Regions from separate parts of the Homo sapiens genome. Here region 1 is linked to region 2. The links come from fine-mapping of genetic effects on gene expression. A gene starts in region 2. The other region holds a variant in brackets. All regions are shown on one strand. Distances are between the middles of the regions.

Region 1 (13,071 bases), 44 kb before region 2:
TCTCTGGCCTGCCCCCTGTCTCCCACTAGCGCCTCCTACAGGCCAAGCCCAACCAGAACCCAGAGGGAAGAGAGGCCATTGACAGGCTGTAGTGGCCACCTGGGGACACAGAACAGGTGGAGAAGGTGGCCAGGGCACCAGGACGGCGGCCAGAAGGTCCGGCACACGTCACCCACTTGAGAGCTTTGCACGAAGGGACATTAATGCACTCACTCACCAAGCGACAGCCATAGGGCAGCCAAGGTATCCCCTTCCATCATCAAAATCCAGGACAGCAAGGACTCATTAGAAGGCTTGAGGCTAATATGGGCTTCTAGAAAGGGGAGCGCGTAGCCTTGGAACATGTGCAAATGCCCACAGGGGTGTGCGGGCGAAACCCACCTCCAGGCCCCATGTGCTCATGTCCTCCAGGTAGGTGCGTGTTGTCTTTCCCATAGAGGATGCTGGGTAAACTGAGGCCCCTCAGCCTTCAGTGAGCACACAGGGCCCTCAGCCAGGCCCAGCACTGCCAACTGTATCTCAGCTCCCCCGGGTCCCCAAGTAAGCTGGGGCCTAGGCATGCTTCCAGCCACTTCCACCGGACTTGAGTTTTCCAACACCTCACAGACAGGCCCCTTTTATTATCTGGCATCTTCTCTATTCAGGCAGGGACAGTGGTTGCTGGGATCAGGCCATTGACACCCTCATGTGACTGTAATTAAATGGACTGGTCACCTGACAGTTTTCCATAGTCAGTATAGACCATGACATAGCTTGGAGATCTGTCCCCTCCGAATCTCATGTTGAGTCTGTTGAGTCTGATCGCTGGTGTTGGAGTTGGGCCTGGTGGGAGGCGTTTAGATCATGGGGGCGGATCCCTCAGGCATGGCATGGTGCAGTAACGCTGGTGCGTTCACGGAGAGCTGATCGTTAAAGAGCCTGACACCTCCCCTGCTCTCCCTTGCTCCCTCACTGTGTGACACACCTGCTCCCCTTCCCCTGCCACCGTGAGTGGAAGCTTCCTGAGGCCTCACCAGAAGCAGATGCTGGCACTATGCTTCCTGTACATCCTGCAGAACTGTGAGCCAAATAAACCTCTTTTCTTTGTAAATTACCCAGCCTCACATTTTCCTTTATAGCAAGAAAACAGAAGGATACAGGCCACTACTCCAGTTGGTTGGGCCATCAGTTGATCCAGCTGAAAGCATGTGTATGGATGGAGAATGTGCCAATGGCTTAAGGAGAGAGGGCACAGCCACGTACACAGGAAAGATGCTGCACCTCCGGGGCCGTGTCATTCACCGTCCCTCCCCAGTGCCCGGCGTGGTATCAGCTGATCGGTCTGAAGTGTGGCTGCTTCTCCCGGACTCTGCAGCACCAGGTACGTGGCAGGGCAGCCAGGTGTGTGGCTGTCACTGAGACTGAGGTAGACTAGGACAGGAATCTCCATGGGGGAAGTATCCTGTTTGGAACAAACCCCAGGAGACATCATGACTCCCTCAGAAGCCAAGACGATTTTGATCACAGTCACATTTAAGAATGTGATTCTTTCCAAAATGGCATTGCATTCAACTGAGAGGAGAGCTAAAGATGATTATTTTAATTAATCTATTAAAAACATGTAGACAATTAGCAGAAAACTCAAGAGACCCTCTGGGCAGGAGTGAGAAAGAATTGTCTCCCGAGAGACCCGAGACTGCCCACACACCCATGCAGGAGGCCACAATGTATTCCGAGTGCTCGGCCTGGTGCCGGCACGTCATGGGAACTGCACAACTGCACAAATGCTCACTGAACTGAACTAAATCTGTAGGTTCTCCAGAGCAACTGACCTCAAGTTGTAGGGGCCAGACCTGGATGTGGTTTCATTTATTGGCTCTGTGACCTTGGGCCAATCCCAAGATCTGAGCCTCAGTTTCCTCATCTGTGCAATGGGGATAATCACACGATTTGCAAATTAGATGACGTCGTGGGCTTGCAAGGCCCAGTAAACAGCGAAGGCTACCCGCCTGGGCCTCTGGAGGCCACACAACAAGCTGACTTCACGGTCCCACTGTTTTCAGGGCAGAGGGAGGTTTTATTCCCATGACTTCATCGGCAAAGGTCCTTCCTCTGGAGGAAGAGAGAAGAGTGGGAACAGCTTGGCTGCATCAGGCTGCTGGGAAGCCAGGCCCGGGCCGTGACATGAGGGCCCAAGAATGAGGATTAGATTTCAGCCAGGCGTGAAGGCGCATGGGGGAGGCCACTTCCTGCTCCAGTGATCCCCGTTCTGTGGCCATTCATTTAGTTCTTCCATCCTGGGATGTCCTGGCTCACCCCGATGCCAGCCCCACTTCTGACCCATGGGCTGCTCCTGCAGGGGGAGGCCCCCATTTCTGCTGCTCCTTGATCTGCGCAATTCTTTGCTAAGCTCCACCTTCCTCTGAGTGAAAGCCACTTTGAAATGTGAACGCAGACACATGCAGGGGCCCCACCTGAAGACCCCCGGCCTCTCTGCTCTCTGTCCCCAACCCAGGCGGAGTCATCCTCTCAGGATAGTGTTACAGGAGGCTGCCCCAGCACCAGAACCGATTGGATTTGGGCCTCTGGCAGGGCCCATGACATCATGAGGATTGTTCATTGTTTGGGAAAATAACTTTTTCACATGGCAACGGCTCCTGTCCTCAATGCTGGCCTGAAAGCTGGGGCCCCCCACTGCGAAGTGGAATGACATCACACTAGTATCTTAAGGGTAATGTTCCCCAAATCAGGGCACCTCATCCCTGCGTATCCTCAGTGTTGCCGACGGTGGCAGAGCCTGAGCATCACCTTCCCAGGGCTCGGGTGGGGCCAAACAGCATCCACCTTGAGCCATAGCTGCAGCCAGGGCCCCAGAGGGAATTCAGACCTGTGGGATGCCCATTCCTCACAGGGAAAAGATGGGGCTATGTTTTCTGCAGTAATGCTCCAACTCATCACGCACCTCTTATTTCACACCAACTAGAATAGGAGGAACCCTAACAAGCCAAACATAAGGCCGTGAAGATGTAACCTGTCCAGTGGGCAGGAGGGCCTCTGCAGCCCCACGCCGGCTCTGCCCATGGGCTGCGTCCTGGGCAAGCCGCCCACCTCTCTGGGCTAATTGGTGGGGAATCAAATGAGGTGCTGGTGTGGATGAGCTTCTCCAGAAGCAAGAAGGTGCCATTCACACAGCTGCAACTCCTGGGGACAGGAGCCCCTCTCTACCAGCAGAGTACAGGAGAACATGGCACGCCAGGGTCCTGTGGTCCACAGATACAGTCCCTCTGAATAAGTGAAACCGAATGAAATGTTAACACATTACACCGAATGTGCATGTCACATTCAGACATGTCATGACAAAGTTCCACACATCAGGCTTCTTAACAGACATTCCAATAGAACCAGACATGAAAACCCACCAGAGAAACCCTTCACTCTCTGAGGGCCTTAAGACATCTCCCTCATATGCGTGATTTTGGGAGCAAATGTCCTTAATTGTGACAAACCTGCAGAATGTTTGCAGGTGAAATAAGTTCAGATATCTTGCTGGGCACATATGACCTAAGCCAGTGTTTCTCATATTTCTCAAATGTGTCTTAAAGACTTGCATGTTTTATAGGAATTCAAATGTTTTCATTGTATTGGTCTTTTTAAAAAAAAAAATCATTTGTGGCTTTTTGTTGAGACGGAGTCTCGCTCTGTCACCCAGGCTGGAGTGCAGTGGTGTGATCTCGGCTCACTGCAACCTGCATCTCCCAGGTTCAAGCAATTCTCCTGCCTCAGCCTCCTGAGTAGCTGGGATGACAGGCGCTCGCCACCACACCCGGCTAATTTTTGTAGTTTTAGTAGAGACGGGATTTCACCATGTTGGTCAGGCTGGTCTCGAACTCCTGACCTCAGGTGATCCACCTGCCTCGGCCTCCCAAAGTGCTGGGATTACAGGCGTGAGCCACCGTGTCTGGCCCATTTGTGGCTTTTAAAGGCAGGACTTCCCTCTTGTGTCCTCACCTGCCATTGAAAGACATCTTCACAGAGTAAGTCCATGGGACTTACCCCTGCCGGGCAGATTCTCATGCTGGGCAGGGTATGTTTTTCTTTAAACGTCCTCCCCACCCAACTCTACACCATTCCCATATCCTATGGGAAAAGGGGTGGAATCACAGGGAATAATTACCTTCTGATCCCATGCTTTTCCTAAAGTATGAAGTATTTCCTGGTTTCCCCACCTGCCAGGCATGAGGCCAGCCAGGTGGAACATCGCATGAGTGGCCAGAAAAGGCAGGCGACAAAGGCCAGCTTGCATCTGAGGACGGAACTTGGCCCATCCCCAAGCCTGGGGGGCACCACCTGCGGCTGCTGGTGCCCCTTTCAGTCCCTGCTGCCACATCCTGTGAACCAGGACAGGGTAAGGCCTCCTTTCCCCAGCGGGCTCTTCTCAAAAGAGTTCCCCGGGAACAGCAGCCCTCGGTGTGAGTGTAAGGTACTTTTCCAGCGGAGCCTTCTCCCGTTCTTTAACAAAAAGCACTGTGTACCCACCAGGGGCAGGTGCCTCGGGGGTGGGGCAAGCGAGCCAAGTGTGCGACCCTCCTCGGCTTAGCGTCCAGTGGTGGGGCAGATAGTCAAAAGGGCATGCGATATAACAAAGCCAGGGGTAGGGTGGGGCTGGGGCTGGCTCTTTCCTGGTAGGGCCGCCCAGAGGCCTCTCTGCCACCTTCTCCGAGGCCTGCAGGGTCTGGTCCACCTCTGGGGGCACTGATTCCGGTGGGCGGTGGGCAGCCTGGCTTCCGGTCTGGTCTGCCCCCACACCCCCGCTAGGGCACGATAGGGGTCAGTTCTCCCAGCCCAGGCCCCGCTCAGCCCCACCAGGGCAGGGCGGCTGTCCTGAGTTGTTTCTTGGCTCCCTGCGTCTTCTGGGTCCCGGCAGGTGCGACAGGTGGGGAAGAACAGTGAATCCCTGCGCTCAGAGCACGCCAGCCATGGACGGAGGGCGGCCTGGAAAGGGGAGTTCCCGCCTGGGAAAGGGGCGCTGAGAAGGGGCCCTGAGGGTCTCCCGGCTCAGATTTGCTCCACCTGTGTCATAGAGGCCTGGGCCTTGCGGGGCGCAGCCAGGAGAATGGGGAGGGGGTACCTCGGGGGTCCCTGCAGAGGACGTGGGGGACAGAGCGGGGAGAAAGGATGCCTCGAGCCGTCTGGGAGGAGGCAGCGCCTGGCTCCCCGCAAAGAAAATGGGGTCGCGAGGGCCGAGGGTCCAGGGCTGGGAGAAGGGGCGCCTCGCTCCCCAGGAAGCAGAAGCGCTGGACAGCGCGAAGGAGGGATCCCAGAACCAGGAGTTGCAGGGGGGACGCGCCCAGCAGGGGAACACCCCTCGCTCTCCCTGCCCTGCCCCGCTCCCCGTGCCCCCTCCCCCACTCCCCCTCCCCCGCCCGGACACTCCCCCCATCCCCATGCAGCGCGCACGGGAGCCGGGAGGGGGCGCGGGCGGGCGCGCGGTCTCGGGCGAGGCGGGGGATTCAAGCGCGTTATAAGGCGAGGAGCCCGGGGCGTCCGAGACGCCGCGCTCGGAGCCGCGAGGGAACCGCCGCCCGCATGGCCCCGGCCCGCCGCCCCGCCGGAGCCCGCCTGCTGCTCGTCTACGCGGGCCTGCTGGCCGCCGCCGCCGCGGGCCTGGGGTCCCCGGAGCCTGGGGCGCCCTCGAGGAGCCGCGCCCGCAGGGAGCCGCCGCCCGGGAACGAGCTGCCCCGGGGCCCCGGGGAGAGCCGCGCGGGGCCGGCCGCTCGTCCGCCGGTAAGACGCCCGGGCCCGCTCCAGACCCAGCCCGCGCCCGCACGCCCCGGCTCGGGGCGGCGGGAGGCGGACGTGGAGGCCGAGCCCGCCCTCACCCCCGAGGGCTGCTGCATCGCCTGGCACCGGGGCTCCGGGGCTCCGCAGAGACTCAGGGCCGTGTAGACGCCGCCCTCAGCCCGGCGGGGCAGCCTTGACTTTGGCTTTGGGGTAGTTTGACTTAAAGCAAGGTTCTACTAGGTCGGCGAAACCCCCCTTTTCTTTTGGGACAGAAGGAAGTTGGGAAATAGATAAAGTGTAAATAACTTGATTTGAGGAAATTGGGAAGAACGCATTTGTAAAAAGTGTAAGCGAATTACTGCCACCGCCCCCAATCTATTTGGTGCAATTATCTGGAAAACAAAAAGTGTTTTCCTGCGGATCTGGGGTCGGGGGGCTGTGCAGGGTGGGGAATGACATGTGGCTTTGAGTCAAGTGATCAGGTGGCTTTTGGCCGTGAGTGGGTGATCTTGAGCTCTGCCCTGCCCCCTCCTCTCCAGGGTTTTGGAGCCTGGACTGCTGAGCAGAGGGTGGTCCGGTTGGGGAGGTGTGGCCCAGGCCTGAGGAGGGGAGAACTTCAGAGGAGCCCTCAGTGTGGCCGGGCCTTGGGTCAGGGAGACAGGGCTGCCCCAGGGAAGCCGGGGTGGGCGGCCGGTGCTGTTTATTCTGAAGATGCTCAGGGGCAGTAGAGGGGAGAGCCAGGAACGCATCTACTAGAGAGGACAGGGGTGCAGCCAGGCCTGGGGTCCCCCAGAGTTCTCTATCCCGGCCCCATCACACCCAGCCACTTCCCAGGGACTGAAGGCACCCCCTCCCCGTGCAGTTGGCCAAACCACCCAGGTGGGCACAGCAGCCAAATGTCAGGGCACTGTCAGCAGGAGGCAGACGGGGCTCAGGGGCTTCCAGGTGGAGTTTTGGCCTTGGACCCTGTTTGTGGGGGACACAGTGACACCAGAGGTCCTCCCAGGCTCCAAGGCTTGTTTCTGAGAGACCCCTTGTGGCTGGAACCAGGGCAGCTGCCCAATACCCACCCCCATTGCTGGGGCCGTCTCCTGGGACGCCACCTTCTGCCTGTTACAGCTCTACCTGCAAACCACACTGGGGTCAGGGTCCGGCCACAGGCCACAGGTGCAGCTGGGAGGGTCAGCTGGGCACACCCCTCCTGGCCGGTGTGCGGCATCCTCGCCCCATGTTTCCACGGAGGGCACACAGGAAGTGGAAGAGGGTCCTGGGAGGGGGTAGAGGGGAGATCAGCCAGCAGGTGGTGCAGTTGACCCTCTAAGGCACAAGGAAGCACTGAGCAGCGCTGAGGGCCCTGGGCC[C/T]CTGAACCCTTTCTCCGCCCAACCACAGGCTCCTCGGCACCGCAGCCCCCATCTTCCCACCACAACACCCTGGCCTGCGCATTGGTCAGCCAGCTCCCAAAAGAAGGCCCTGCATCCCCCCAGATCAGCCAGGAACCAAAGGCAGTGACTTGGCAGCCGGCTTTGTCTCTGATAAAAGGGCCCAGTCAGCTCTAAAATCCCAGGGTCCTTCCGTCAGCCCCCAGCGTCAGCACCCATGACCTCATCTAAGCCCTCTTGGGCCGGTTTCCTTCCCAGCTGGCAGCCTTGCCTGGAGCCCAGATAGCCCAAGGCCTCTCCCAGGAAGGTCCCTCCCAAAACTGTGCTCAGTGTCAGCATCAGTCAGGATGCAGCGCGGACAGGAATGGGAACTTCCGGAAGCATCACTGTCCATGTGTCAGTGTCTCAGAAGTGCTGAGGAAATGAAAGTCTCACACAGAGGCCTCGCGTCATGACAGCTCGCCTGGTCCTCTCCCCCACTGGACTGTAACCCGAGGCAGCTGTGAGAGCTGAATTTGCCTCCTTAGAACTTCTGACACTGGGGGAGGATGGACAGAGGAGGGTTGGCTAGTAGTTGGGCTCCCTGATAATCACAGTTGCTTCTTCCTGAGCACCTATGGGTGCTCCAGTGGTCGGATCCTCCTGGTGACTGGAGGACGGTGTGATCACTGCAGCTCCTCTGGAGGAAGGAGGCCCAGCAGTACGGGGATTCACCCCGATATCCAAGCCCTGCACCCCATTTTCCCTCCAGGCATCTTGGGTCTGCCTCTCCCATGAGTGCCAAGTCCAGGCCGAGGTGTGGCCCGTTCCCTAGGAGTCATCCTCCACGGGCCGGGGGAGAAGCTGTGAGGGGTTGGGGCCCCTTTGGGAGCTGCCTTTGAGGGCACCACAGGTGACAAGGACCAGGGTCCCAGAGTACAGAAGGCCACACAGTCACCTCCTGCAAAGTGTCCCACCTGCTTGGTAGGAGCCCAGTGAGGCCAACCGCCCTGCTGGGCTGGCTGTGTTCCAGGAGCCCACCGCTGAGCGTGCACACAGCGTCGACCCCCGGGACGCCTGGATGCTCTTCGTCAGGCAGAGTGACAAGGGTGTCAATGGCAAGAAGAGGAGCAGGGGCAAGGCCAAGAAGCTGAAGGTGAGGCCGGCATCCCGTCAGTGCCAGGCCGTGGGGGGTTCCGCCTCCTCGCTCCTCATCCACTCCCACTCCTACATCCTGAACATTTCCAATAGCACACCCCTCACGCCTCGGCCTGGGGACAGAGAACAGAGAGAACCCAGGCAGCCCCAGGGGGAGCCCCGAGTTAGGGGCCTGGTCCCAACCATTTCCCCACACCCCTAAAATGCCAGGCTCTCCCTCTTTTCTCCTCCCTCTGCATCCAGGCCAGGGAGGCTGGGCTAGCCCAGGCTGTGGTGAGAACCTTGTCCACACTGGAGGGGCCTGCAGGAGTGCCTGGCTCCCAGGGACTAGGGGCACAGGGTCCCTCTCACCCTCACTCAGCCTTAGGTCTTGGCCTGGGCAGAAACTTGGTGCTTGGTCCTGGTGCTGCCTCCTGCTTGGAGCCCCCAAAATGGAAAATACGGGGTGTGGGCTTCTCTGTCCCCTGGGGGCCAGTATCACCTGCCTGGGATCTGAACACACGATGGAAGGCCAGCTCGGAGTGCATGAGGCAGGTGCACAGGCCGCGCTGTCCTCGTGGCCTGGCCTTCTACCTCTGCCCAGCCTCCTGGCCCTGCCCTAAGCTTCTCCCCACAGGGGGCTCACTGGCTTCTGGTTCGGGTCCCAACCCAGCCTAGTGGGGACCTGCTGATGGTGGACTCGGGCCCAGTGCAGACCCTGAGATGCAAGTCCCCAAAAGCAGCCTAGAGTCTTCTTCCCTCCACGAGGCCTGGCCGCAGGAGCGGGCTTCAGCCCTCTGCCTCCCCACTCAGAGCAGAGTCCTTCCCTGCCAAAGCCCCGCCCCGAGGGCCCCCACCTCCAGCACAGTCCTTGTACTCACTCCAGGAGAAGCTTTCACTGAGGTAGATCCTTGGCTGGAGGTTGGAGCCCACTGGGGAGCTCTGTTGCCTGCCTCTTAGTGGCAAGAGCTTGCACAGGGGATGCTGTGGCTCCCAGCCTGCTCCTCACATGTCCTCACTGCCAAGGTTCCCTTTCAGTTCGGCTTGCCAGGGCCCCCTGGGCCTCCCGGTCCCCAGGGCCCCCCAGGCCCCATCATCCCACCCGAGGCGCTGCTGAAGGAGTTCCAGCTGCTGCTGAAAGGTAGGGGTGTGCACCGGCTGGGACACACACACCCCGCTGTGAGCAGGGCCTGGGAGGGTGTCCCGAGGAGCTGACAGGGCCAACCTCAACACTTCGGCGGGCACCCAAGGAGGCACCTGCTCTGGGCTGGACTCAAGGACAGTAGAGCTGGCCAGGTCCAGTCTCTGCCCCATCTTGGCCCATGTCTGCCAAGGGTCAGGGCTGGGGATGGCTGGGGGTTGGGAACCATGGCCAGGAGAAGGCTTCACAGAGGAAGGTGGACCTGGCCACTCAGTATGGCGGGTGCTCAGGGACCAGCGCCTATGCCCTGCCTGGAAGTCAGGAGAGCCCAGCGAAAGGCAGAGGCTAGTGTATGGGGCAGCACCAGGTGGAGCTCAGCCTGGCACCCACAGTCACCACTGGCCAGGGCTGGGGCAGCCTGCCCTGGAGGAGGCAGGGCTGAGTGGAGCCGCGGAGTCCACACTGAGGCCTCCTGCAGAGCGGCGGCTCACATTAGTCATTAGAATTGAGCCGTTTTTTCCTTTTAGTTCAATGTCCTGTTCGTTTAAATATAGCACCTTCTGCGCTGAAGAACCTCCTTGTACTTCCAGTAAAGCTGCAATCGCTTATTTTACCCCCAGCGTCTTTGGAAAATGTGGGTGGGGTAGAGGTGAGGCTGGAGGCCAAGGGCGCTGGGGCACTTCTGCCCGAGCTTCCCAAATCTTGAGGGAAACGGGAGCCGCTGCAGGGTCAGGACGCAAAGACTCCGAGGCCCTTCAGGCCGAGGGGACGTCGCCCTCGCCCCACCCCTGCGCCCGGCAGGCCCCTGGTCTCGCTAGCACCTGTCGTTCAGGGCTGGACCCACGCGGCGGGCGGGTGAGGGGTCCCTGGCGCGCGGCCACCGCTCGCTCTGTGCCAGGTGCGGTGCGGCAGCGGGAGCGCGCGGAGCCCGAACCCTGTACGTGTGGCCCCGCCGGGCCGGTCGCTGCGAGCCTCGCCCCGGTCTCGGCCACCGCCGGGGAGGACGACGACGACGTGGTGGGGGACGTGCTGGCACTGCTGGCCGCGCCCCTGGCCCCGGGGCCGCGGGCGCCGCGCGTGGAGGCCGCTTTCCTCTGCCGCCTGCGCCGGGACGCGTTGGTGGAGCGGCGCGCGCTGCACGAGCTTGGCGTCTACTACCTGGTGAGTGCCGGCGCGCGGGAGGGCGGGTGAGTCCGGCCGGGCGGGAGCCGGGGTGACCATCCGTGCCCCTCGCAGCCCGACGCCGAGGGTGCCTTCCGCCGCGGCCCGGGCCTGAACTTGACCAGCGGCCAGTACAGGGCGCCCGTGGCTGGCTTCTACGCTCTCGCCGCCACGCTGCACGTGGGTGAGGCCCGGGGCGTGGGAGGATCGCCCGCTCTGTCGCCCACCCCGCCGCCCGCCCGCTTGACCACGTCCCACCCTCCCCCGCAGCGCTCGGGGAGCCGCCGAGGAGGGGGCCGCCGCGCCCCCGGGACCACCTGCGCCTGCTCATCTGCATCCAGTCCCGGTGCCAGCGCAACGCGTGAGTGTACCCCGGCCCGGACCCCACACCCGCATTCGCTCGGCCTCCACAAGCTGGAGGTGGTTAAACAGGCACTGGACGGGGCTTCCGCCCGTTCACACCCCACCGTGGCCTAGGTGACCCCACACCTTCTTCCAGGTCTCCCGGTCTACTTCTGCCCCTATCAGGCCTTCCCTTCACAGCAACTGGGAGCTGTTAAAAATGACCTTTCCAGCTGGGCGCGGTGGCTCACGCCTGTAATCGCAGCACTTTGGGAGGCCGAGGCGGGCGGATCACGAGGTCAGGAGATCGAGACCATCCTGGCTAACATGGTGAAACCCCGTCTCTACTAAAAATACAAAAAATTACCCGGGCGTGGTGGGTGCCTGTAATCCCAGCTACTTGGGAGGCTGAGGCAGGAGAATGGCGTGAACCCGGGAGGCGGAGCTTGCAGTGAGCAGAGATAGCGCCACTGCACTCCAGCCTGGGCAACAGAGCGAGACTCCGTCTCAAAAAAACAAACAACAACAACAAAAAAAAACCTTTCCAGGCCACTCCCTGCCCAGACCTTCACCTCCTCCCCAGGTCCTAGGAGGCCGGGCTCCTCCTAGCCTCCCAACTCCTTCCCACCTCAGGGACTTTCATCTTGGGGCTCGAAGCACCAGTGTTACTTCAAGAGGCCTCTCCAGACAGCTTTCTGGAGGCCCCCTCCTCAGTCGCCCTCCCACTCCTCACCCGGGAACTTTCTTCCCCATGATCGCATCCCTTGCTCCTGCACCATCTGGCCCACGAGTGCAGTGACTGTGAGCTCCCTGTCTCCCCACACCCAGAAGGGAGCCCAGGTACAGCGGAGATACCCTGCGGGTAGGATAGCTGGAGCAGACTTGAATGAATGGATCAAGTCCAAAACTTCTTAGTCTGCCTTTGAACCCCCAGAGTGTGTTGGCCTGAACTAACTTAGCATCACCTGCCACCACATCCCCACTTCCGGCTGCATCAGCCAGTGTCCTGTTTCCCATCAGAGCCAGGGCTTTGCTGCCTCTTGCTGGGCCCTCGCCTTGCCTTTCCCAATACAGCAAGCATGCCTCTGGCCCTGTGTCCTTCCTCCTCTTGGGGACTCGGTTCAGACACCACCTCCACTGGAAGACCTGGCCAGGGTCAGGCACTTTGCTGGGCATGTGTTGGCTGCTGGCAGGATTGTGTGTCGTAGGTGAAGTTGGTGGGGTCTCATGGGGCAGGCTGACCCTCCCTCTGTTTTGGGTACAGCTCCCTGGAGGCCATCATGGGCCTGGAGAGCAGCAGTGAGCTCTTCACCATCTCTGTGAATGGCGTCCTGTACCTGCAGGTGAGTGCGGCAGGCTTGGGCATCGAGGGGCACCGCCTGGGCATGGCCACGGGTGGCTGGGTGCAGAAGGGTGCTGTTAGATGCTCAGGATCACTGGGTCGGGTGCAGCACCCTCAGACTCCAGGCCTGGGAGAGGGTCCAGGACATGCCAAGTTCTCACTTTGGTCTGGGCGCAGCCAGGCTTCAAGTCCTGATCTCCTTCCTCCAAACACAGCCCTTCCCCGAGGGCACCTGCCCGCTTGAGCAGCTGCTCCGCTCTGCATTCCCAATATTCAGACTCCCTGAGCACCTCATCCTGAGGCCCAGTACTCCTGGCCACCACAAGCCCGCTGAAGGGACTGGTGCAGGGAGGGAATGGAGGCCAGCACTCTGCCCAGGCTGACGCCCTGAGTCCCCTGTGACTATGGGAAGCCAGATACGTTATTTTCCTACCCAAAACCCTAAGTGACCATCTCTGGCACTGTGGGAATTTTGGCAAGTGGTAGAGAAATGGACATAAAGGTGGAATTTACTAACAAAGAAAACAATTGAGTGCAGGTGTGTGGAATAACAGCTGCTATTGAATTCTCCCAGAGCTTTGGAGAAGGTAGAGCTACTCCCCGAGTTAGCCCAAGTTCACACAGCAGAGCCAGAAATGGAGGCCAGGCTGTCTGGCCCAGAGTCTGTGCTTGCTGAAAGGCATTTAGAGGTCCCTTCTGGGTGCCACACAGCATGCTTGGTGAACTCAGATGGTCTCTGCCCCACCTGGATCTTAAGATGCAGATCCTGAGGCAGGTCTGGGTGGATCCCAGATTCTGCATTTCTGGGAGTTCCCAGGGAATGTGACACT
Region 2 (15,786 bases):
CACTGCACTCCAGCCTAGGCAACACAGTGAGACTCTGTCACAAAAAAAAAAAAAAAAAAAGTACTCACTTAAAAACCAATTCACTTTTTTTTTTTTTTTTTTTTTTTTTGAGACTGAGTCTCACTCTGTTGCCCAGGCTGGAGTGCAGTAATGTGATCTTCGCTCACTGCCTCCACCTCCCGGGTTCAAGCTATTCTCCTGCCCCAGCCTCCTGAGTAGGTGAGATCACAGGCGCACACCACCATGCCCAAATAATTTTTGTATTTTTAGTAGAGACATGGTCTCACCATATTGACCAGGCTAGTCTTGAACTCCTGACCTCAAGTGTTCTGCCTGCCTCAGCCTCCCAAAGCGCTGGGATTACAGGGGTGAGCCACCATGTCTGGTCTAATTTTTGTATTTTTAGTAGAGACGGGGTTTCACCATGTTGGCCAGGTTGGTCTCAAACTCCTGGCCTCAAGTGGTCCACCCGCCTCAGCCTCCCAAAGTGCTGGGATTACAGGTATGAGCTATTGTGCCAGGCCAAACACCAATTCAACTAAACAAATAAATTTATATCCCCCAAGAGGGTCATCCCTATCATCTTTTTGCCTCCATTTAGAAATGAGCTGGGTATCAACTTTCTTCTTTTAAAAACAAAAGCTTTAATTAAAAATTTATAAACTTAAGGGAATGAAATTTCTCCCGGGGTCTTTGCGTCAGAAGTACCTAAAATACACAAGAAATTCCTGAGTTAACAAAAAATAACTATTTTGCTTTATATCCCTAATACAAATGGGAAAATGTATTCTAATCCTTCAGGATGACCCTAAACAAATTAAGGAATTGCAAATACTTTCACTTTTCTTACAAGTGACATAAAGACTCTATTAGAAGTATACAAGAAGCAGAAGAAAGCCATTAAAAAGTATTTAGTATGGCCAGGTGTGGTGGCTCACACCTATAATCCCAGCACTTTGGGAGGTCAAGGTCAGGACTGAGGTCAGCAGTTCAAGATGAGCCTGACCAACATGGTGAAACCCTGTCTCTCCAGAAATACAAAAATTAGCTAGGCATGGTGGCGGGTGCCTGTAGCCCCAGCTACTTGGGAGGCTGAAGCAGGAAAACTGCTTGAACCTGGGAGGCGGAGGTTGCGGTGAGCTGAGATAGCGCCACTGCACTCCAGCCTGGGGGACAAAACCAGACTCTGTCCCCAGCACCCAAAAAAAGTATTTAGGATAACCATTACTCAATGTATTAATCCACTTACAAGAATTCCTAATATCCCGAAGTAGGTCACTTTTGCCCAAACATTGGGTCTAACAATCACAACGCCCGTTCTCCGGACAGACTCAAAAACCACATGAGATGTTCCAGACAATCACGCTGCATTCAGTGGTGTCACAGAGCCAGATGTCTTAGGACAAGGGAGGGGACATTTACAGGTAACAGCCCAACATGAAGAGCAAACAACCCTTCCGCTTGTACCAGGTCATATTTTAACTTTTGAATTAACTTGCCCATCTAAATCAGGTCTTTCCACTGCCACTGTACAAGGGAGGAAGTCTTCTTTTACCCAGGTAATAAATATATTTTCAGTTCTTGTAAGCATTCCTCACAATGCAACTTACAGCTTAGTATTAATACTAGCCTGGCCGCCTCTCCTCTGGCTACAATTCAGTCAGATGGTGCCCCAAACTGAGCCCCATCCCCAGAGAACTGCCTATCACCTTCTTTCTCACTCTGGAATACTATGAGAGGTATTTCAATTAAACACAATGAGACCATCCTACATTTTGCTGGCCACAACTGGGAATGGCTTCTAAAAATGATAATACTGCCTGCCTGTCAGGCACTATTCTAAGAGCTCCACACATCTTCTCATTTAATTCTTATGAGATAGGTACTATTATTATTTACCGATGAAAAAACTGAGGCACTGAGGTCAATTACCTGTTCAAGATCACAGAGCCAGTAAGGAGTGGAGTGGGGATTCAAAGCCATGCAGTCCGTGCTTTTAGTGAGGTACTATGCTGCCTCCATACATGGGCACCCTTCCAGAAACTTCATAAACATCAACTCATTTTACCCTTACAACAATCCTATGATGATAATCCTGAGATTTTATAAAATCTCTGGAAATAATTTTTGCATCATCAAAAGAATCTAACTTAGAAGTCTGTATGTGGATTCTTTAAAAAAAAATCTATAGGTCATAGATACATAAGGAAACTACTGATTAGTCAAAACCTTAGATTTTTTTTTTTTTAAATTGAGACAAGAGTCTCGCTCTGTGAGCCAGGTTGGAGTGCAGTGGTGTGATCACAGCTCACTGCAGCCCCAACCTTCTGGGCTCAAGCAATCCTCCCTCGTCAGATTCCCGAGTAGCTGAAACTACAGGCATACACCACCATGCCCAGCTAATTTTTTAACTTTTTGTAGAGACGGGGTCTCACTATGTTGCCCAGGTTGGTCACGAACTACTGTACTCAAGCAATCTTCCTGCCTCAGCATCCCAAAGTGCTGGGATTACAGATGTGACCCACTGCTCCAGGCCCTTACATTCTATTTTGAATAAACTGAAATTCAAAGCATTGGGGGCTGCAATCATTGGACAAAGTGTGACCCTGACCTAAAAATCTGGAAGAGGCCCCTCCCCTAATCTTAAAAATATTAGAACCCTAATAAGAATACAAGACTAAAAATGTCCATTAATCATAGTTAATCTCATCTAGAACTTTTTTTTTTCCTCAGTTATCTACATTCTGGAGCTAAGTCTACTGGAAGTTATATACTATGCTGAGAAAAATACCCTTGGGTTGATCATATTCAGGTTAAAGGTTGCTGTATCCAATAAAGTTAAAAAAGGATGTTAAAATATTTTGGCTAAATTGTTTTTTATACCTCAATTTTTTCAACTATAAAATAAATCCAGGTGTTTTCCAAACACCACAGAGGTATTATCAGAAAAAAGGGGGGACAGGTTCCGCCACACCCCCCAACCACAGTATGAGTTTAGTGTATCCTTTCCACTTTCCTTAATGCTCATGCACATGGACTCATGCATTTTAATTTGTAGAAGACAGAGTCATACTCTACACAATACTCCACATATAGTGTTCACATAACCCATCAAGGCATGCTCCAGGCCAACACACCCAAGTCTAATTCATCCTCTCCAACAGCCACACATGGGAAGCATCTCCACTCATTCGACCAGATCCTTACTGATGGGTTCAAGCTTTTCCCAGTTCTTCATATGATAAGTGACGCCACAATCAACAATCTGATACATGTATTCCTGCTTAATCTGCTAGACTGCTCGTCAAAGGATATTAGTTTAAATCTGATAGAAGCCAAAATCTGTTCCCCAAAAAGTTGTAATTTTCACTCCCAAAACACTTTATGAGAAAGTCTACTTCGCTACACATTCACCAATGTTACCAACTGTTGCTAATCTGATGGGTGAAAAGGTAAATAGTTCCTCAGCAACTTTCTGTTGATGGGCCATTTGTATTCCTTACCTCTGAACTGGGAGGATACATCCTTTGACCATTTTTCTAGTGGGTTTTATTTTTTCCCATCAATTCTGTGAGCCTTTCTTATACCCTTAGTAATGTATATTGCAATTATTTTCTCGGTTTGTCTTTTGCCTTTATAGTATCATTTGTCCTGCAGAAATTTTAAATTTTTACATAGTCAAATTCACTTTTTTATGACTTTTTTCTTGTTCAACCCTGTAGTTTTACAATCTGTTTTCCTCTAATACCTTAACCTTTATGTTCAAATATTCTTCTTTTTTTTTTTTAATCGTAGAGACAGGGGTCTCACGAAGTTGTGCCAGGCTCTTCTCAAATTCCTGGCCTCAAGCCATCCTCCTGCCTTGTTCCCCCAAAGCGCTGGGATTACAAGTATGCGCCATCGAGCCCAGCCTCCAATTTTTTTAAAGTATTTTTAAGATGGTGTGGCCATCAAATATTTTATTTCCTCCTCAACAACTGACCATCAATTTTTAAAGTACTAGTGTAGCAACCAAATAAGTAAAAGAACCACCCTATAAAAGTGAAATCAAGTTACTGGCGAAGCAATTTTAAACCATGACACCTTCAACTGACATACATGGATTGTCAATATAAGCTGCCAATCTTAAAGACATCAGGTCGGCACTTTTATGGGTATGACATAGGAAAGTTCCATTTCTGCCTGATATGAACAAACACTTTTTTTTAGGTAAAATATATACATCTCTCCTTTAAAAAACTTGATTCATTCAGCAATTAAAACTTTTAAGGGCTTGGATGAAAACTACTAATTTAGCAAAATACCTGAAATATTTAGTGCATTCTATGTATTTTTCTAGATTATAAACATTTAAGAGGTTTAGGGGTGGGAACATTAGATGCAACGTTTAAAACAAAAATAAAAAGATCTAAACAAAATATTAATACATTTGATGTGATATAAGCAGTGTAGTATTCTCCCTTTGGACACTCAGTGCTTTCCCATAATTCATTTAAGACTGCGTTTTTCCACTTTTAAACAACTGTTAATGGCTCAGCCAGGCACAGTGGCTTACCACTGTAATCCCAGCACTCTGGGAGGGCCAAGGTGGGCAGAACACTTGAGCCCCAGGAGTTCGAGAGCAGCCTGGGCAACATGGCAAAGCCTTGTCTCTACAAAACATACAAAAATTAGCTGGCTGTGGTGGTGCGCACCTGTAGTCCCAGCTACCAAGGAGGCTGAGGTGGAAGAATCACCTGTGCCCACGGAGGTCGAGACTGCAGTGAGCTGTGTTTATGTCACTGCACTCCAGCCTGGGCGACACAATGAGGCTGTCTCAAAAATAATAACCCTGGCTAACATCTATAAAACACTATACATTCTACCCCACACTATGTGCAGCACCATACATACTGTACTAATTTGTACAGTAACAGTGGCAAGTGTCACCCCTTTTTACACATGTAGGAATAGCCACAGAAGGCACAGTTAGTAAGCGAAGAGCTGGATTCTAAACCAAGTAGTCTGGTTACACTTTCTGAACAACTTTTCTTGCGCTCTGGGAAAATAACGAGGTCTTTTATTGTTCACTGCATTAGAGATTTGTGGTACCCACATATCATGTGTGAGGGTCATGATGCACAGTTTAGACTCATTATTCCATTCACTTTAGCAATCAATATGATTTATTCAAAGTATGTTTTTTTTTTTTAAATCACAGTATTTTCACAAGTATGTGAAACCAGATTCTGTTCTTGTACAAACGATTTTAACCTGTCAAATCTCATCTTGTTGGTTGTAGCTAACAGCCTGCAATGATAACTATGGATCCCAATTGTCACTCATTTTAGTACTTATCCCTCTCAGCTTCCAATCATCTACAAATTCTGAGATCTTCTTCGTTTTAAAGCTATTTTTAAAAATACACTCAGCCAAGCAGGACCTGTTGACAATGTCAGTGCCCTCCTGGCAGATGGGGAGCAGCTGACCAATCCAATCTCAGGGTGGTCAGCAGTTTAAACACCATGCACCCCCTCTGCCACCCTTTCAGCTCAGTCAAGGTTGGAAACTGAGTTTGGAAAAAACGGCAACAGGATGTACCTTTCCCACTGTATCTGGCAAAAGGCTGCTAAGGTGCCAACCTATGAGATTCTGAGTTGCCAGGTTTTTTGTCAGTCAAGGGAGCCTGCTCCTGAGCAGAACCTAATTAATTGCAGGTAAAAAGCAATGGAGATTTTAAGACTCATAGGTTTACACGCACACTGGTGAATCCAAATGCTGTCCCAAATATATTCAGATAGAAATTATACTCCATTGACAAGAGAAAAAAGACTGCTACACAAATCCAATTTTTACCCACAGCTAAAACCGTGGTTATTTTGAAAATGAATGGCTGAGTCAAGTTCAAAGACTCCAGGACCAGTTACTGAGATGCTCTGTACCATCAGAACGGTCAGTGGGGGCAGGGCACGGTGGCTCACACCTGTAATCCCAGCAATTTGGGAGGCCGAGGCGGGCGGATCACCTGAGGTCAGGAGTTCAAGACCACCCTACCCAACATGGTGAAACCCCGTCTCTACTAAAAATATAAAAATTAGCCGGGTGTGGTGGTCGGCGCCTGTAATCTCAGCTAGTAGGGAGGCCTAGGCAGGAGAATTGTTTGAACCCGGAGGTTGCAGTGAGCTCAGATCTCACCATTGCACTCCAGCCTGGGCGACAAGAGTGAGACTCCGTCTCAAAAAGTAAAATAAAATAAAATGTTTTCTCGCCCAGAATTACTGCAAATCACAAGCCTGAACATCCTTGGAAGCTCAATTCAAACACTGCCTCCTTCCCCAGTCTCTCGGTGCCCGACAATCCCTCCTCAAGAGTCCTCAGCATTTCCCACAGTCATTAACTTTTGCCAGTTTTAATTACCGTAATTAGTACCCTTCAGAAAGCAGCTCTTAGAAAGCGAAGGCTGGGCCTTACTCACCTCCGTCTACCCTACAACAGCAGCTCCCAAACCACTGGTCTCCAGCCCCCGCTGGGTTGGCCTGGGGATTTAGTAACAGATTCGGAAACCCCACTCTCAGGGATTCGGATTTACTGGGGCTGAGGTGGGCCTGGAAATCTGAACGTCTTAAGTTTTCCAGGTTTTCTGCCCCCAAGTTAAATTTTGTAATAAGGCCCTAAACTACAACATCAAGCTGGAAGTCTTGCATATGAAATATTCACGCGTTTTGACAGATGAAACCCGGAGACTGTAACCCACAGGACGCAGGGATTAACACAGGCCCTGTTTCAAGCTGCTAGGATGCTGAGCTCAAACCACAGCCCACAGGGACTCCCACTGGCAGGGGCCAGCGCTTAGGAGATGAGCGGACCCCTTAACTTCAAGGAGAGGGGGAACTTCCCGTGGACCAGAAAAAAAAAAAAAAAACTACTGTTAATTATCACAAAATCACAGGATGACAGAGGAGGCATCCTGTCTTCCAGGCTTCAAAAACACGAAGGATTAAGATGGTGATTAATTCAATCTCCAGTGCAAATAAAAACGCCAAGCCCCTGAACTTGCACCGGCCCGGAACGCGGCCGTTCCACAGCCCGCGGGTGAAGTGCGGCCCGGAAGCCGCGGGCGGGCGACGCGCAAGGCAGCCCAGGCCGCGGGTGGAATCGGGGCGCGGGGGCCCGCGGTGCCGCCGGGCGTTCAGAGCCGGTCCCTCGGGTCGGCCCACGCGGTCGCGCCGGCGCCTTTCACCGCCACGCAGAGGGGCCGTGGCCACGACGGCTCGGCCCTTTCCTTCCTGCGTAGCGAAAATGGCGGAGCGGCCTCTCCGAGCTCCGCGAGCGACCGGGCCTCCGACAGGGCCGCCAGTGGGCCGGACGGGGCCTGGCCAGGCAGGAGCAGGCCCCGTGCAGCCCGCGCCGCCCGCCGCCTCCCAGCGCGGGCGCCGCCTCAGCCGCCCCGGGCCTCAGGCCGCCCCCATCCCGCCTGCTCTCCCTTCCCTGGCCGGCCCGGCGGCAACGCCGCTTACCGGCAGCCGGGCGCGGCGAGCGCTCGGGCTCCGGCAGGTCCCCGAAGAGGTCCATGGCGGAGGCTGGGTGGAGGCGGCAGCAGCGACAGACACTCAGCCCGCGAGCAGCGGCCGGGCTCCACACCCCGGGCGGGCGGCAGCAGCGGGCGGGCGACGGGCAGGGGCGGCCGGCGCCGTCAGTCACCTGCAGGGAGAGTCCCGGACGCCACCAATCGGCGCGCGGCGTGGCCCGGCCGCCCCAGAGGGCTGCGCGCGGGCTGGGCGGGGCGGCTGGGGGCGGGGCGGTGCGCATGCGCGTGGGCCCCTCCCGCGCCCCGACTGCGAGCCGGGCGGACGGCGCCGTCTGGGCCCCGCGGTGTTTCCCGCCTTGGCGAACCCCGGGCCCCTCCTGCTTTTCCTTGGCTGGGGGTGTCCGATTTCTGTCAAGTTTCGTTGAGTTCCTGTCCAAGAAGCCCTGTCCAGAGAGAAACGTCTGAGCTCAAGGGCAGCCCCTGATGCCTGGGAAGGCTTTCTGGAGCTCTTGCCATCTCTTCGGCTCGTCCTTTCACCACGGCGTGCCTGGTTTCTGGCCTGTTTTAGAGACTGAGAAACCGAGGCTTGGATGGAGCGGCCCTGGGCGTCAGGACGGAAACCTCAAAAGATGCCGGAGGGAAAGGAGGCATTCCCTGACTTGTCTGCACCCACTGGTGTCTGTGGGGAGCGGAGAAGAGGGGCTCCTCCTTAATGGTGTCCCCCTCCATGCCTGTAAAGAGAAAGGCGGCCACTGACATCGGGGAGCTGGCCTGGTTCTGCAGCCAGGACTTGGGGTTGGTCTGGCACAAACAGCTAGGCCTGGGTGTTCTCTTTGAATGTGAACAATTTCATAAAACACCAACATCAGGCCGTGATACAGATCAAGAGAAAAAAACAGACCACTGTGTAATCAAGTGTGAACACAGACAAAACAGGAACACTGTCCAAGCCACAAAAGTGACCACATTCCCCTCGTCTTGGCCAATAAGAGTGATTGCTGCTTCTTTACCATTACATGTTTAGCCTTTGTCTCGTCCTCCTGCCGTCTAGATAAGCTTCATCAAGATATCCAATCATGGAATCCTCCTCTTCCTGACATCCAATCCGGAGCAAAGGCCCGTTTCCATAAATGTTTCCCCAAATCAACTAACACAAACCCAAATCTTACACCTCCGTTCCAACATCGTTTACCCAAGTTCCCCAGGTTATGTGGTCTCCCTCCATGCAAAGAGTTTTCAGCCCAGTTCATTCTGGGGCAGATGTATTTCTGACGCTCTCTGGCTGTAGGACATGGAGGGAGCCCAACAAGGCTTCATGCCTCTCATCTGCGTGGCTTCTCACTAGCAACCGTTTGAGATATTCATGCTGCCTCCTCCATTACAGCAGAAACACTCAAGTAACAATGCTTGTAACCGTTAAAGAAAGAGGAAATAAATACAAAAAGCGGCTCAACATTAAAAGGTTTATTTCAGAGAATAAACCTGAGAGGGGATTCTGGCCAATTTCGATCAGGAGCGCTCTCTCTTACAGACTAAGCATTCTCTCTTACAGACTAAGGATATTTAAGGGTTTTGGAAGTGGGGGAACGTTTATTGCAGGGTTGGAATGTCTCTGGTCGGAGGGGAGGCTATTGGAGGAGAGGTTATTTCAGGGTTAGCATGTTTCTGGTTGAAGAGAGGTTTATCTTAGGGTTGGAATATTTCTGGTTATGCTGACATTAGCCGTTAGGCTGATGTTTTGGGGTAGGATTTAGGTGGTTTTTTAATCAAGGGGAACTTAGAAAGGTGGTGTTTGTCCAAGATGGCAATGCTCCTGCTCTATCAATCCAGTCTCTATAGTTATGAAAAGGACAAGGGGCAGCGCATTTTTTCTGGCTACTTCCTGCTGGGGGAGTGAGCAGAGAGTTCTTTGGTTTCAGATTGATTGTAGGAGTAACGCTGTCTGTAGATGTTTTTGGGTAATTGTCTGTGAGATGGCCATGATCCTGCTGGTTAAAAATCTTTGAAAAAGGTGGCCAGGCGCGGTGGCTCACGCGTGTAATCCCAGCACTTTGGGAGGCCAAGGCGGGTGGGTCACGAGGTCAGGAGATCGAGACCATCCTGGCTAACATGGTGAAACCCCGTCTCTACTAAAAATACAAAAAAAAAAAAAAAATAGCCAGGCATGGTGGCGGGTGCCTGTAGTCCCAGCTACTTGGGAGGCTGAGGCAGGAGAATGGTGTGAACCCAGGAGGCGGAGCTTGCAGTGAGCCGAGATCTCGCCACTGCACTCCAGCCTGGGCGACTGAGCAAGACTCCGTCTCAAAAAAATAAAAAAAACTTAGAAAAAGGTTAATTAAGCAGGGTAAGAACATTATTCCTAGGCATATTTTTAGGAGAGAGCCCAGGAATGGGATGACCCATATTAGGACTTTGTTTTTAAACCAGTAATTTATTTGGTTGTCTTGTTATTCTCTTAGCTTTTTAGCCCTTTCTTTAAGTTTTTTAGCAGCGTCTCTTACTAGGCCCAACTGATTGAGATAGAAGCAACATTTTTTACCGAATGAGAGGCAGAGGTCCCCTCTTTCAGTTGTTATAACATCTAATTCCTGTCTATTTTGGAGGACTACTCCAGCCAAGGAGTCTACTCCAGCCAAGGAGTCTAGTTGGCCTTGGACTCTTATAAGGCTTTGGGCCATATGCTCTAATGAACTCTGCAGTTCTGTTGAAAGAGATTTCAAGTATGTTAAGCAGGTGGCGAATCAGCCTGCTCCCAACCCAAGCCCGGAGGTTATACCTAAGGCAGCCATTAAAGGAATGACGTGGATGGCTCTCCTCTTCCTAACATATTGGATGGATGGAACGGGTAAAGATTGATTAGGAGGAACTAGTCCAATGGAGGGAGAAAGATAAACTAGGGTACAGGTTCTGGTCTGGTTGATGGGGAGACAAAGAAATATGTGTTGAGACCACACAAAAAGAACAAGCCTTTATTGTAAATACAAGCAGAGATATGGACAGAAAATAAGTGAATTAAAGATGAGGTGTTTGTTCTTTCCTGTGGTTCATTACTCCAGGTGGACAAGGAGGAGGCCTGGGAGACACCTACTATACTAGAGGTATAGGAAGAGTTATTTTTTACAGATTTAATGCGGTCGGATGCTGCACTATTGATATTGAGCCAAGGAAAATTGTGGGCACTAGGAGCAGCACAGGTTAGGCTGGAGGCATTGGCTGAGGGAAAGGCTGTCAAACGAGCCAGCTGCAGAAATGCTCCGTTCGCTTCAGGTGATACTTGGTAGTTAGCCTGGTTAGTTTGATGGTCAGAGGGGTGTTTAACAATGATAGTGTGGTTGCATAGGTTAGATGTTAAGGACCCTACAGGGAAATTTCCCTCCGAGGCTGAAAAGCAAAGTGAGGCTCATTATAAGAGGAGGAGTGTGTTTAGTTATGGGCCCTTCAATGGGAGGGCCGTGGGGCTTAAGGCGCTGTAGGGAGTTATCCTAGGTTTGAAATAATTTGTTGGCCTGATCGGCCCTGGAAGTGGGATAATCACCGACTAGAGTGTCAGCTCTTTCAAAAAAGGAAGCTCCTTTTTGGAGTTTATAAATTAGGGTTGTGTTTCCTGTTAAAAGGTCATGAAGGAATGTAGGAAGGGCTGTGTAAGCTAAGGAAGACAGCGATAAACACACCCAGCATTCCAGAGCAAAGGAAGAGTTAGCTTGCCGCAAGAGAGATTGTGTAAGGTTTATAGAGCGTTCTAGTTTGAGAGCAGTGAGGAGTGGTTGTATTGATGAGGTTGATGTGATTAGGGAATTTATATTGAAAGAAACAAGCAAAAAGCGAAAAAAGTTATTTGGGTAGGAGTAAAGTCCTGGAAAGTTCCTTGAAGCCATAGGTCCCATAGAGCAGTAACGAGCTGATCAGGATGTATAATGGGAGCTTCCTAAGGGCACCACTGAAGGTCTGTAACAAGGTTAGTTAGGAAGTGATGAAAGTTTGGGAGAGAAAGAGACATAAGCGGCTTATGTGGATTTCTCCTCCTTTTCCTCAGGGATTTGGGTGAGGCGAAGAGAAGTGGGTCCTGGGAGACACGAGAGAAGGCCGAAGGGGTTTCAGACTTGGTTGTTTGGGTATGTGGTGAAGGGAAGTCTGTTTTCTTGAGAGAAGTACAATGAAACCAGCTGGGGAGTCCCTGGAGTTTCGGTGCTGTGGGTGTGGTAAGGATGATCTGGTAAGGTCCCTTCCACTTAGGTGTGAAGCAGGAATTGAGGGTAGGACTGGGGTATTTTACCAGAACCCAGTCTCCTGGCTGTAGGGAGGGATTAAAGGAGTCGGTGATGGGTTGTGGCAGGTATTTGTCAGCATATTCCTAAATGAAATGGCAGATGGTATGTACAAGAGGGGAAATGAGAGGGATTGGTGGAGGTGGGGCTTGACCCTGAGGTGGAGCAGAGGGGCAAATGGTCTCCCATACATGAGTTCAAAGGTGCTGAGCGTTAGAAGTTTACATTGGAGCACCCGAATTTTTAGAAGGGCTAAAGGCAAAAGTGTAACCCAGTCTTTATGTGTTTGGTGTGAGTACCTGGTGAGGGTGTTTTTGTAGAATGCCATTCATTTCTTCAACCTTTCCTGAAGATTGAGGTCGAGAGGGGAGGTGCAACTTCCAGGTGATTTGTAGGGCTTGTGCAAGTGTTTGAATAATTTGAGAAATGAATTCAGGGCCATTATCAGATTGAAAAGAAAGAGGCACCCCGAACCTGGGGATGATTTCTGTTATTAATTTGGAGAGTAGGAGCTCGTTTGTTGGTTGTGGGAAAGGCCTCGACCCGTACCAAAAAGGTATCAACCAGAACTAAAAGAAATCAAACCCTTTTTACTGGGGGCATGTGGGTAAAACCAATTTGCCAGTCCTGTTCTGGAAGGTGTCCCTTGGATTGATGGGTTAGAAAAGAAGAGGGTCTAGTGTTGAAGTGGGGTGAAGCTTTTTTGCAAACAGAGCATTGATGGGAAATGGCTTTTAACTGTTCCTTTATGTCTGGGGTTATGTATATATGGGAACTTAAGAAATGCTGTAGAGGGGAATGGCTAGTGTGGAAGAGGTTGTGAATGTCCCATAGAAGAAATTGTTTTTTCAGGGTCAAGTAGGACTAATTTGTTTTGTATGAACCAGTATGGGGGTTTAAATTGTCTGCCCCTACTGTGATTGGTTGTTGTGTTTGGTGTTCTGGATAAAAGGAGGGCATATGTTGTGTGAGGGGAAATAAGTATTGGGGAATTGGGTCGTTGGCTGAGGCGTGTTTGGCCCAATAGTCAGCCTCATGGTTCCCTAAAGGAATGTGGCTTTTGTCTGATTGATGTCCTTTGCAATGGATAACCACAACCTTTTCTGGAAGTATAGCTGCCTTTAATAGATGATGGATGAGTTTTCCATTAATGATAGGGGTTCCCTTAGCTATGAGATAGCCCTGCTCACTCAAAATTTGGGCATTGGAATGGATAACGTTACAGGCATATTTAGAATCAGTGTATATATTCACTTGTGTGTTTTCTGCTAGAGTTAGTGCTCTTATTAGGGCAACTAATTCTGCTTGTTGGGAGGATGTGCCCAAAGGCAAGGGGGCAGCCTCTATGGCTTTCTAGGTGGGAGAGAGTGGGTATCATCATGATATCCTTTCAATGATGGCATATCCTGCTTAGAGGGGAGAGTGTTTTGATGTGCTCCCATCTATAAACCAATCTGGGTCTCCTTTTATGTGAGTGCAAGTAAGGCGGTGATACATAGAGAACTTCCAGTTAGATCAGAGCATGAGTGTTGGTCGGGGTCTAAAATTGGTGTTGAAGGTAAAGAGTGGCGGGGTTAGTCAGGGAGCATCTATGAAGAGATATAGAGGGTTGAAGGAGAGTTGAAAGTAGGGCTTGCCTGCGAGAGGATGAGCTGGAGGTGAGCACCTTGTGGCTGAGCATATCTTGTAGACTGTGAGAAGAAAATACCTGAAGAGGTTCATAAAACATGAGATTTTGTGCCTCAGGAATAATTATTGCTGCTGTTGTGACCAAAATGTTTAAGCAAGGGGGCCAGGTTTTATAAATGGGGTCTAGTTGTTTTGAAAATATACCACTGGTTGGAGGGAGTTTGCCATGAGTTGGGCTAATAGACCAAGGGCCTGATTATGAGAACTGTGTAAATACAGATTAAAAGGTCTTAGGGGGTTTGGAAGGCCTAAAGTGGGGGCCTGTAATAACACACGTTTTAGGTGAGAGAAAGCATGATAAAGATCTGGGGTGGGAGTGAGGAGTTGGTCAAGATTTTCTTTTGTGTGTTCATAAAGGGATATAGCAACAATGGCAAAATTTGCTATCCATATTTGGAAATATCCCACTAATCCGAAGAAGGAAAGTAAGTCCCTTTTTGTTTTAGGAAATGGGATTTGTTGAACACCTTGCTTTCGTGCTGACAGAATTTGGAGTTATGATAAGTCCTGGGTATGAAATTTTTGAACTTTTCTTTTGGATACCCAGTACCCACATTCAGCCAAAAAATGTAAAAGCTTGGTGATGTGTTGAATACAGTATTCTAGGGAGGGGGTGCAAAAGAGTAAATCCACATATTGAAGCAAAATGCTGGGTTGTAGAGGTAGTTGGGAGAGGTCTAATTGAAGTGCCTGACCGAAATAGTGAGGGCTGTCCCTAAACCCCTGGGGGAGGACAGTCCAGGCGAGTTGTTGGGAGTAGCCTGTGTCAGGATCAGCCCAAGTGAAAGCAAAAAGGTTTTGAGAGAAGGGATGTACAGGGATAGTAAGAAAGGCATCTTTGAGGTCTAATACAGAGGAGTGGCTAGTGTTGGGAGGAATTCGTGATAGGAGGGTGTAGGGGTTTGGGACAACGGGACAAACAGGAATAATAGCGGAGTTGATTTGTCACAAATCCTGGACCAGTCTATAGGAGCTGTCTGGTTTTTTAACTGGAAGAATAGGAGTATTGTGGGGAGAATGGGTGGGGATTAAAATACTGGCACCCAAAATCAGGATATGATGGGCTTGAGTCCCTGCAATCCATCAGGGTTGAGGGGACAATGTTGGAAACACTATATAGTGCTTAGGATTCTTCAATGAAATTTGGGTTGGAGAATGGTGGGTAGCTATTATGGGGAAGTCAGCGTTCCATATGATGGGGTTTACATGGCTGAGAAATTTGAGATTTAAGTCTGTTTGATGTGGAGTGTCTGAGGAGGGCTTCTGTTCTTGACATAATAATAAATAAGGGTGTCTTTGGTGTAGGGCCGATAAATGAATGATTCCCCCTGTTTGTGTAGAATATCCCTTCCTAATAAGGGAGTGGGACAGTGAGGAATGACCAAAATAGAGTGAGTGAGGATGACTCCCTGAAATGAGCAGTATAGAGGCGGTGTTTTATATGGGGTTTCTTGTATGCCCTTCATACCAACACAGAAATGGATGAACGTTCTAACGGGCCTTGATAGTCAGTTAATACCAATAGGCTAGCCCCAGTATCCAAAAGAAAGGAAATAATCTTACCAGATACAGTCCCAATTACCCTCTGGGTTCTGTGGACTCACTAGACATGGGGGCAAAGAATCCTGGGTACCTTCAGTCCTCTGCTGTCAGCACCAGCAGTGAAGAGATTTCCTCCTGTGGATGGCTGGGGGACTTCATTATGAGCCACACCGAATGGGGAAGGTGTCCCCATTGGGGGCAGTCCATTTTCCAGTGTCCCCAAAGACCACAAGTTGAGCATGGCTTGGTGGAGGGCTGGGGGTTAGGACAAGCCTTTGCCCAGTGTCCAGGGTTGCCACATCGGAAACAGACTCCCAAAAAGGTGGCAGAGTTTCCTTTTGGGTTATCGGGAGGCTTTTGTGTGATTGACTTTTGGACAGCAGAGGTGAGCATCTGGTATTTTAAATGGAGATGCTTGTCTTTTTGAATTTTTGGTTCCTCATCTCTGTTGTTAAAGACACAGAAGGCTGCATTTAGGAGGTCCCACCGAGATGTCTGGGGACCCTCTAGTTTTTGTAATTTTTTTTCTGGATATCTGGGAAATAAATTGGAGGTAGAAAAAGTTTGACCTTCTCTAGATTCTGGGTCCAAATTGGTATATTTTAGCATAGCTTCAGTGAGGCGTGATAAGAAGAGGGCAGGATTTTCCTGGGGCTCTTGTGTAATTTAACTTTTTCTTTTTTTTCTTTCTTTTTTTTTTTTTTTTTGAGACAGAGTCTCACTCTGTTGCCCAGGCTAGAGTGCAGTGGCGTGATCTCAGCTCACTGCAACCTATGCCTCCCG

The links.
Region 1: its variant is fine-mapped to the expression of ILKAP in whole blood (INTERVAL, PIP 0.98).

Annotation. Positions count from the first base shown.
Region 1 is chr2:238,153,443-238,166,513 of GRCh38, forward strand. ERFE (erythroferrone) reads left to right here and starts at 5,528. Exons shown (of 8, transcript NM_001291832.2): 1 at 5,528-5,763; 2 at 8,152-8,274; 3 at 9,294-9,396; 4 at 10,295-10,557; 5 at 10,633-10,741; 6 at 10,828-10,918; 7 at 12,164-12,242. The coding sequence starts at 5,566. RefSeq lists enhancers at 1-339, 9,716-10,216 and a silencer at 5,506-5,575. The variant C/T (reference allele first, on the strand shown) is at 7,122.
Region 2 is chr2:238,196,003-238,211,788 of GRCh38, forward strand. ILKAP (ILK associated serine/threonine phosphatase) reads right to left here and starts at 7,693. Exons shown (of 12, transcript NM_030768.3): 1 at 7,497-7,693. The coding sequence starts at 7,551. RefSeq lists enhancers at 6,680-6,739, 7,702-8,574 and silencers at 7,110-7,199, 7,320-7,889.